Linked DNA regions of Homo sapiens: region 1 is linked to region 2. The links come from fine-mapping of genetic effects on gene expression. A gene starts in region 2. The other region holds a variant in brackets. All regions are shown on one strand. Distances are from middle to middle. Region 1 overlaps DNAH14 (dynein axonemal heavy chain 14). Region 2 holds the start of LBR (lamin B receptor).

Region 1 (5,000 bases), 49 kb before region 2:
ATCAGATGACAGAAGGGTATTCTGAAATTTGTATTTCAATTGTTCAGTTGCTTTAAAACACTAGGAATTTTATGACAGTTCCAGCTTGCCAGCTCTTCCTGTTTTTTGTTATAATCTTGCTTCTTCTGCAGGTAATTTTTTTAATCAGTGACTGTTATTTGATTTTTCCCTCTGACCTTCATTAATTCTTCAACATTTTCCTTAATGATATCAAGAAAGCCACCATCACCCACTTTCCTGACCATATGAACAATGCATTTCTCTTCTTGGTCAGTGGTCAATTATTCTTAAGATCATTCTCACATTCCTTCTATAGGTTTCACTAAAGTAAAATGATTTGTTCAAGCCTTATTGCATTCATTATCTATGGGTGGTCAGAATCACCCTCACCTTTAAAGCGTTTTTTTTTTCTTTCTCTCTTTTCCCAAAAAGAAAGTTATACATGCATATCATATGCACATTACAATACAGTAGTCCCAAATGTTGCTTTTGACAGTGTCTATAATATACCACATGCAAATAAGAAAGCCTTCGGTATAAAATTTCATGGGAAAATATTGTCTTCAAGCATTACTGAAAGTAGGTATCTTACTCTGGCAAAAACCAACAAAGTGTTCAGAAGTAGCAGGATTGAAGAAAAAAGCTAACAAAATGTTAAATTTTCAGATATGTCTGCCAGTTCCAGGATCTGCAAGCATAAAGGACTACATACACATTATCCAGTCCTTACCTGATGATGACCTTCCCGAGGTCTTAGGAATACACCCAGAGGCCATCAGGAGCTGCTGGGAGACCCAGGGCGAAAAGTTTATTGAAAATCTGATTGCCATGCAACCAAAAACTACCACTGCCAACCTCATGATCAGGTAAGAACTCGCTAGGAAAAATTGTTGGTCAAAAATTATCAGGCTGGGTCTGGCAGCTCATGCCTGTAATCCCAGCACCTTGGGAGGCTGAGGTGGACAGATTGCTTGAGCTCAGGAGTTCGAGACCACTCTGAGCAACATGGTGAAACCCTGTCTCTACAAATAATACAAAAATTAGCTGAGTGTAGTGGTGAGCACCTGTAGTCCCAGTAACTTGCGAGGCTGAGACCCTGTCTAAAAAAAAAATTCATTTGAAGAGATATATAGAAAAGTATAGTCTACATGGTAAAGAAACTAAATTCTACTTCAATGAGTTCCTTATGTATTTAAGTTCTAATTTTTCAATTTGTACGTCTAACAAATTTTAACACTTTTAAAAGATATTTGAATGTTTGACCCCATTTATAAGCTTAAACATTTTCAAATATATTAATATTCATTATAAAGTTAATGTACTTCAATTTGTCTTCCAGACCTTCTCAAATCTTTGAGTAACTTTTATAAATCTAATAATCAAATAAATATGGTGAATCTTAAATTTTCTTGTTCCCTAATATTTTATATCAATCTAACAAGATTTCAACCTAAAATCATAAATCAGTTTCTCAATTATCTCTTTTAATTGGGGTCACAAGACTGACCCCAATCTAACACAAGGTATTACGAGGCCCAATTCTCTTAAACATTACAAATATTTAAGATACCAACATATTATAAGGAAATGCTTTTAATAAACATACTAGATATGCTTATTAATGTCCCTTTGGTCACTTTGAGAGGCTATAATTATCCCAGTCTTGCTGCCTTTGCTTATTAGAGACTTGTCTGTGGGACTTAATCCAAACATCTATCATATTCAATGTAATTTCCTTAGTGGTAGCAAATCTTTGCCCTCTGAAGGTAAGCTTGATTTTTGACACCTTTTGACCTTTTGAATTATTTGAAGCTACCTGGGTTGAATTCTAAGGAGAAAATCAACTTTACAGTCAAAACAGTGTGATGACAAAGTAAGGAGCCATGTGACCTCAGGCGATCTGTAAACTGGTTTGGAAGCAGCACTGTTGGACTAAATACTTCTTGGCAGCTTTAAGGTTATTGCTTACCTTGAAGGATAATATTCATTTGACTGTGAAACCTGGAGTGTTTGTTGAAAAATCAGTCCTGGCCGGGCGCGGTGGGCTCACGCCTGTGATGCCAGCACTTTGGGAGGCCGAGGCGGGTGGGTCACGAGGTCAGGAGTTCAAGATCAGCCTGGCCAAGATGGTGAAACCCCGTCTCTACTAAAAATACAAAAAATTAGCCAGCATGGTGGTGAGCACCTGTAATCCCAGCTACTCGGGAGGCTGAGGCAGAGAATTGCTTGAACCCGGGAGGGGGAGGTTGCAGTGAGCCAAGATAGCAACACTGCACTCCAGCTGGGGTGACAGTGCAAAACTCCGTCCCAAAAAAAAAAAAAGAAAAGAAAAAGAAAAATCAGTCCC[G/T]GCTAGTAAATAGAGCAGCAGAACTCAAAAGAGATGTGCCCCATTTCCTACTCATCCACTAACTGTCTAAGGAGGTCCTCCCACCTCCCGGGGCCCTGGTTTCATCATCTTTAAAAGGATTCCAAAGAGCTCTTCCAGCTCTAGTGTTTAGTGGTTTTGCATAGTATCGCAGCCTCACCTAGGCCTGGACACGCGCTCCTCCTGTCACCACCCGCGGAGTGTGTGATTAAGAAGCCCTTCGTGTCAACACAGGAATGAGGCAAGCAGTGGAATGTTCCATGCGGCTGCTTCAGCGTGCTCTGTTTAGTTGCCTCCTCTTTTTCATTGTCTTGCAGATGCATGCAGATGATTATTTTACAAAGAAATCCTAAAAAAGCTTTTATAATACATATTTCCTTGCAAATGTCTAAAGTACATTGGACAGTTTCTCATCTACAAAATGAAATGAATTCCATGGTCTCTGTAAGATCATCCATAGCATAATTTTGTGGTTCTGTGAAGATACATTTATCTTCAGACGGAACTTAAGCAGAGGACCCTCTAACATTAGATAGATCTGTAGCTTGTTTTTCTCTTGATTTCTTTTATTTTATTTTCCTTTCCTTTTCTTTTTTTAAATTTTTTTTTTGAGATAGAGTCTCGCTCTGTCACCCAGGCTGGAGTGCAGTGGCATAATCTTGGCTCACTGCAACCTCTGCCTCCCGGGTTCAAGTGATTCTCGTGCCTCAGCCTCCTGAGTAGCTCAGACTACAGGCGCCCACCATGCCTGGCTAACTTTTGTATTTTTAGTAGAGACAGGGTTTTACCATGTTGGCCAGGCTGGTCTCAAACTCCTGACCTCAAGTGATCTGTCTGCCTCGGCCTCCCAAATTGCAGGGATTACAGGCATGAGCCACTGTGCCCAGCCAATTTTTATTTTTTTAATTGACATAATAATTGTACATATTTCTGAGGTACATAGTAATGTTTCAATACATACAATGTATAGTGATCAGATCAGGGCAATTCATATGTCCATCATCTCAAACATTTATCCTTTGTGTTGGGAACTTTCAGTATCCTCTCTTCTAGCTATTTGAAGATGTATAATCTATTTTTGTTACCTATACTCATCCTACAGTGGTATAGAACACTAAACATATTCCTCCTGTCTACCAGTAATCTTGAATCCTTTAACAAATCTCTCCCCATCTCCCCACTTCCTGTTCTGTGTCTCATTCTTCTCTTGGTTTTTTTTGCAGACCTGAGCAGAGTAAGGATGAACTGGTGATGGAAATTCTATCCGACTTGCTAAAGCGGCTGCCACTGACAGTGGAGAAAGAAGAAATTGCTGTTGGAACTCCAAGCACATTGAAGAGCATGATGTCAAGCTCCATTTGGGAGTCTCTTTCTAAAAATCTCAAAGGTGAGCATGGGACAGGAGCTTTTTCCCCTTACCTCACTCTCCTCAAGAAAGGACTCTGGTGTCAGGAGTAAGGTAAAGATAAGACAAAAATTCTGTAGAAGTGAAAATACTGAGATAAGATGGAAAACTCAGTCTCTGCCTCCTCTCTCCAAGTTGAAAGACAGAGAGCACAGAAGAAAATCACGCTTTAGTTTGGGGGTGGGTAGCGTGTGGCACTGAAATCAAAAGTGAAGAAATAACAAGTGTAGCAAACTAGAAAGCAGCAACTCTGCTTTGGAGATTGTCAAGAGTTCTAGGTGCCTGTTCTCTCTGCCTCTCTGCCTTCTGGAACAGCGGAAGTTTAGATGGACCTTCTGCTGAAAGACCACTTGACTCCAAGAAGCTAAGGGGAATCAGGGCAGGCCCAGGAAGACAGAGGAAGCCTGATTGCCCAGAGATGACTCCAAACCCAGCTCTAAGTGGCTAAATTGCTAGACTATGATAATTTTCCCAGTTAAATTTTAATACCCATATTTTATCCCTTTGCAGAAGTTTATTTGGGAACCAAATATTGAGCAATAGTTTATCAAAACAGTGTCATTGTTGAGTCTCAATCAAAGGTCAGCAAATTAGGGCTCGCAGGCCAAATCCAGCCCACCATTTGTTTTTGTACAGCCTGTGAACTAAAATGGCTTTTGCATTTTTTAATGGTTAAAAAAAATCAAAAGAAGGAATATAGTTTGTGACACATAAATGTTATATGAAACTCCAATTTGAGTGCCATAAGTAAAGCTTTACTGGAACACAGCCACACTTACTCATGACATATTGTCTATGCATCCACACATAGTAGATAGTGTGGCCGCACCCACACTACAAGGGGAGAGCTGAGTAGCTTTCACAGAGGTGGTGTGGTCCCCATACCCTAAAATGTTTGCTATCTGACCTTCTACAGAAAATGTTTATCAACCCCTGGTCAAGACACACAAAATTCCCTTAACTTTCAAAGCCTAAGTCCCTCCATGTAAAGCCTCTTTTTAATCTGTAAAATATCAAAATTTTATTTCTTTTTAAAATCCAGATCACGACCCCCTTATCCATTGTGTCTTGCTAACCTTTTTGAAGCAAGAAATTAAACGATTTGATAAGTTATTATTTGTCATACATAAATCCTTAAAAGATCTTCAGCTTGCTATAAAAGGAGAGATCATCCTCACCCAAGAATTGGAGGAAATATTTAACTCTTTTCTTAATATGAGAGTGCCTACA
Region 2 (5,523 bases):
TGTCAGTCAATTAACACATTAGGTAAGAGAGGCAGCTTTCTTCCCTACACCTACCTGAGATTGGGCATCACTGGGGTAATGAATGGGTTTGGGCTTGGAGTAGTGGGGAGGAGCCCACAAGTTTTCGGGATGAAGTCAGGCCTGGCTGAGTCACCCGAGGGGCACTTAGGGAGCAGGGGGGCAGTGAACACCTCTGCATGAGCAGGGGCATAAAAACGGAAGGTGACAACATCCAGCTTTGCCTATTTCAACATTTAGCTCAGAGCCTCCAAGTACAAAGAAAGAGGAAGGAAATGTACCCTCCTTCTCTCTTCTCTTGAGCCCCCTCCTCCTCCCTAGGCCCCCCAAAATCAAACCACTCTTACTAGTACTAGCTCTCCTACACTGGTCAGCCAGAGTTAAAAGAAGGCAATTATGTCTTCCTACAGGAAGATGCTCAAGTTGCAAAAAACTCTTTATAAACTTTTGAAACACAAGCCCTTCAGGACGCAGGGGCTACTTGAGGTTTTAAAAGACCCTTGAACAGTTTCTGCGTGTTCTTAAAAACTTATTTACTGGCATCTTTCCATTGCACTTACACACCACATACACAGTATCTGTGTAATATAAACGCAGGCCAGTGCCAAAAAGATTCTTATCAATTATTCTGGGTTAAACAAGTTAACACATATGGTGGATACCTGTTAGGTCTCTAAAGCTTACTTTTTAAAAGAAGAATTAAGATTTGCTTGAAAAACAAACAAAATGAACCGGCATTCTTCTTAGAAGACCATTATCTTATACACAAATGTTCCAAAAGATGAAGCCAACAACATGATGTGCACCCCCACTTTACACAAGATCCACACACAATTGTCAAACGTGAGGATACAGTGCAATCACATCCTAATATATTCCCCCACAGGAGTGAAATAGCCAGGATGGCACACAAAAGCCCCACATTTGTTCGTGTCACTCACTATGCACTCACCTACAGGAGTCAAGATACACACAGGATTTTCTTACAAGAGATGTTTTAGGCAAGTGTGTTTGTAAAGAAAAATTTTGTTCACTGCACCCAATGTCCTCATTCGCCATAAACAGGAAAAACACGGAGACCCTCAGGTTTTTCTCTATTAAGCCAGATGCCCGCTAACTTCAGAGTCAACTGGCACTGCAATCCTCACACATTCCAGCTCCGGTATGTTACTGTTTGTGAACACAACAATTCTCTGCTCATTAACATTACAGGGGTCTCCAGCCATCTTTCCTTCACTTCTCCAAATTCATCTAAACGTGGCATAGAGCAAGACGCTCGAATGACGTTGGACAGCTTCCTTTTCACACCTGAGCCCCGGTAGCCCCACTAGGCAAAATGCAAACAGGAACCCCGGGCCTTGCTCCGCGCCCTTTGCTTCATGAAGCAACAGAAAGGCCACCTTCCTGGCTGTAAAGGCAGAAGCGCCTTCTTCCCCATAAACATCCTTGGGCAGCTCATCATTCCCCTCCTGCTCGTTCTTCTCCCTCTTCCCAGGCAGCCTGAGAAACAAAACTTAAACTGGACTTGTTGCCTAATCTAAATTAGGATCCCTCTGCTCTTCTCCGTAGCTCCATCTTCTCCCACACACCAGTTACTACAATGCGTAACTACAGATCTACACGTGTTTACGTGCAAGGTCCCCGGGGGCCTGTTCACCCTGGCACTGCCCAGGCGCCGCGCCTCGCGCTGCAGGTGTCCACGCGCGGACCACGGTATCTACCGCGCCCTCGTGTGAACACCCGACCGGGCCCCGTAATCACTCTGGGAAAGCGCCTTCAACAAAGCCCTCCGAAAGCAAGTGCTTTACTAAGTGCCCCTTGAGGCTACTGGCAGTGCGAGGCTGGCTGTCATTAGAACATTTTTCTGAACCCTCAAAAAGGTGAAAAAGCAGGACCGTGCTTTAGCAGGAACACGCACACCCGCCTAAATACCCGATTTTTGAGACTGTCCGGGCGAAGGAATTCAACGCATAGGAGCGAGCAGCCATGCAGTGTGCCTGGAGAATCACCAAACCGCGACGACCACGACCCTCAAAGCCAGTGACAAGCAGCGCGAATCTAAGCCCACCTCGGCCGCAGACCCTTCCCCGTCCCGCCAGGCCGCCGCGCCCTGTCAGCCTCCTACTGCAGGACCGCGGGGCCGCCTGCTCATCTGTCAGACGGGCGCTCGGAGGGGCCGGGAGCCAGGCTGCGGTGGGGCAGGACAAAGGCGCCCACGAACCCTCCCTGCCGCCGCCGCTCCACAGCCGCGCCGCGCCGCCAACATGGAGGGAAACGTCCGCAGTTTAAAACCCCCAGCTCCATTTCCGCAGCGGGCCCGGCTCGGGCGAGCTCCAGCCTCGCCCGCCGCCGCCCCGACCACCCGACTGGGCCAGAAAAGGCGAGGAGGGGAGGAGACGAGGAGGCGAGGAGAGGAGGGGAAGGCCGCCGCGCCAGGCCCCGCGCCCAGGGTCCCCGGCCCGGCCGCTGCGCCGGCCTCGGGCTTCCTCCCCCAGCGGCCCCTCGAAGAACGCGCCGCGGGGAGCTGGGAGCAGGGCGGGGGTGGAAGCACTCACCTGCGCCAGGTTCCGGCGGTGACACGGACGGCTCCCGGAGAATAGTCGCACAGCAACCCGGCGGCAGATCCACGCGCGCGACGCTACCCGGCCGCGCTCTCGCGCCCCGCAGTCCCGCAAGCCGGGCGCGCGCCTCCCCGGCCCCGCCTCGCGGCGCTTCTCCCCTCCCCTCGCCTCCCCTCCCCACCGGCGAGGCCGCCCGGGGCTCCCATTGGCTCCTCGACCTTTTGAATCATCCCCGGCGCTGTCGATTGGTCGCGCGCCGTGGCGCGTCCGCCCCGCCCCACCCTGCCTGGGGGCGGGGAGGCCGGTGAGCGGGGGAAACCGAGTCTGGCGGGGCGGCCCGGAGCGCGACGTTTGCCACCGCCTTATCTCAGCCGCCCAGGCGCCCTCGCAGCACACGGAGCCCGCGCGCTCCCGCCCTTTCCCTCCCAGCGCTCGCAGCAGTGTTTGGGGTGCCAGGTGGCTTGGCGAACGAGATTTTTTTTTAAGCTACAAAGAAAACTAATACATTCTTGAAGTGATCACCAAAGATCCGAGCTCGAAAGCGTTTCTCGGTAAAACACTATGAGTGCCCTCCTTAGCGTGTTAAAATCCCACAGAAGCCCCTGGACCAAGCAGCGGCATCGAAGGCGAGCAGGGGCGCTTTTGTGTCCGCGGCCGCTGAACCTGCGTAGAAGCGAACCCGGACCGATGCTGGGACCGGCGGCGGGAGGGAGGGGGAAGAATGGCCGAGGGCTCCTACGACTTACGCTGCGAGGAGGGGCTCGGTTGTTACCCGAGATGCTGTCGAGATGCAGTAGAAAATCCCCAACACCGCGGAGCGTGGAACAAGAAGTTTTATGCGTTACACACCGAAACACAACTTGACCTGCAACCTACAAGCCTGGTTTTAATTGAACCCCAAAATGCTGAGTCATGTCATTGTTGACTCCGAATCTGTTACGGATCCTAAGCTTTTTTTTTTCTGCTAGTTTTCATTATCGGTTAGTTGATTTCCTTCCTTTGAGGTCGAGAGTTTAAAGCAGTCCATTGAAGTTCCCTATTTTGCAGTGTGGTTTTAATCAAAGTATTTCTTAACACCCTAACTAGGTATATTTAAGTGAATTGCTATTTTGGAAGCATTATTAAATTGTAATAATGAATAGAACTTTTCATCTATAGCCTAGCTTCAGCTTTCATTTTCTCATAGAACTACAAAACACCCAGGTTTACTTCTTAAAAAAAAAAAAGTGAAAATACATCGAGTTTTCTCAGTCATTCACATGCAGTGTGAATGAGTTCATCAGAGCCTTTCCTGAGAAGTTCTGACATCAAATTGTCATTGCCATCGAATTTGCCCTTGGTGGAGATCTGTGCAACAGAAATGCACATCGCACTCCAAAGTCAGAAAATCTTTTATTTTTGACAAACCCCCAAGTCTCAATTGTCTTAACCCTTGACATAAGATAATATTAGTCCTACCTCATAGAGTTTTGCAGTAAATTACACAGAAATAAAAGCGCTTATGGGGACCTAAGACAGATCCTATCCCAAATAGCCAAGCAGTGAGTGCTACACTATTCTTTTCTCATATGTTCTACCCAGAATCAAGATTTCACTGGATTTCCCTTGAGGTGCACATTTCCTGGATGATTTCCACTTGTGAAATAGAAGAAGATTCGTTTCAAAAAAAAAAAAAAAAACACCTGGCCAGGCGCCGTGGCTCACGCCTATAATCCCAGCACTTTGGGAAGCCGAGGCGGTTGGATCACCTGAGCAGGAGTTCGAGACCAACTTGGCCAACATGGTGAAACCCCATCTCTACTAAAAAAATACAAAAATTAGCTGGGCACGGTGGCGAGCACCTGTAGTCCCAGCTACTCGGGAGGCTGAAGCAGAAGAATCGCTTGAACCTGGGAGGTGAAGGTTGCAATGAGCTGAGATCATGCCACTGCCACTCAGCCTGGGCAAGAAGAGCGAAACTCTGTCTCAAAAAATAAATAAAATAAATTTTTAAAAATTTTAAGAACCTTATTTTAAAGATCAGGTTTATAAAGTCTCATCATAACAAAATGAAGCCAAAACTTTGTAAATTAACTAGAGTTAGCTTAGCTAACATTTTACCTAATAAATTACTAATGACATTTTTAAAACAAAACTGATTTGACATCAGGAAAACTAAGCAATAATTTTTGTTCATTTCTACTTCGTGGACTCAAACATACCATGAACAATCAGATCTATATGTAGGCTGCTTTCTCAACAAAGGAACTGTTTGGTATTTTTCTCTTCTTTTTTAAGTCTACTAAAGGCTGTGTAAACTTGGAAGTGGGGAATTTTCAGAAAGTTCTCAGAAAGATGCTTGTCACTCACAACTAGCAAGTTGTGGGTTTTCAGAATCTATAAAGTAAAAGTCACTTAAAAGTCCGCATCTTGGCACCATTGTTGTTAATGAGGCCATGAGTGGCAAAGCCCCTTTCCCCATTCACATAACAAAAGCAAAGCAAAACCCTTCAGTCCTGCCACTAAAGCCAACCAAAACACACATGCGGCCAGGAAGCTTTCATATATAAAATACAGGAACCCCCAGCGGAATGCATTCCAATGTGGCAGTTATTTGGCTCTGGTCTCCAGAGGATCTCGGTTCCCAGGATTGAAACATCTCTTTCAGGAAAGACGTGTAGGTAAAGTTTCACGTGGCGTGAGATCCAGTTGGATTCTTTTGGTACTGTTACATAAGGAACAAACTTCTGTATGCTGCAAACTGCAGAAAGCCTTTATTCATAAGGTAGAGGTACCTCAAAAGCTGTCCGATAAAAACACATTTCTACTGATGATGTTTGATATGGTTTCTATTCACACAGAAATGGAGCTCACAATTAACATGATGCATTATGTCCATCTCAATAGCAATTTAAAAATTATTTGAAACTTCTTCTACATACTATATGTATGTTTGCAGCACTTA

What was found.
Region 1: its variant is fine-mapped to the expression of LBR in whole blood (TOPMed, PIP 0.98).

Annotation. Positions count from the first base shown.
Region 1 is chr1:225,376,571-225,381,570 of GRCh38, forward strand. DNAH14 (dynein axonemal heavy chain 14) reads left to right here. Exons shown (of 86, transcript NM_001367479.1): 79 at 667-866; 80 at 3,589-3,752; 81 at 4,813-5,000. Among named protein-coding and RNA genes, the nearest start is that of LBR, 49 kb to the right of the region's middle. The variant G/T (reference allele first, on the strand shown) is at 2,348.
Region 2 is chr1:225,425,381-225,430,903 of GRCh38, forward strand. LBR (lamin B receptor) reads right to left here and starts at 2,658. Exons shown (of 14, transcript NM_002296.4): 1 at 2,574-2,658. RefSeq lists enhancers at 1,068-1,740, 1,741-2,412 and a silencer at 2,245-3,074.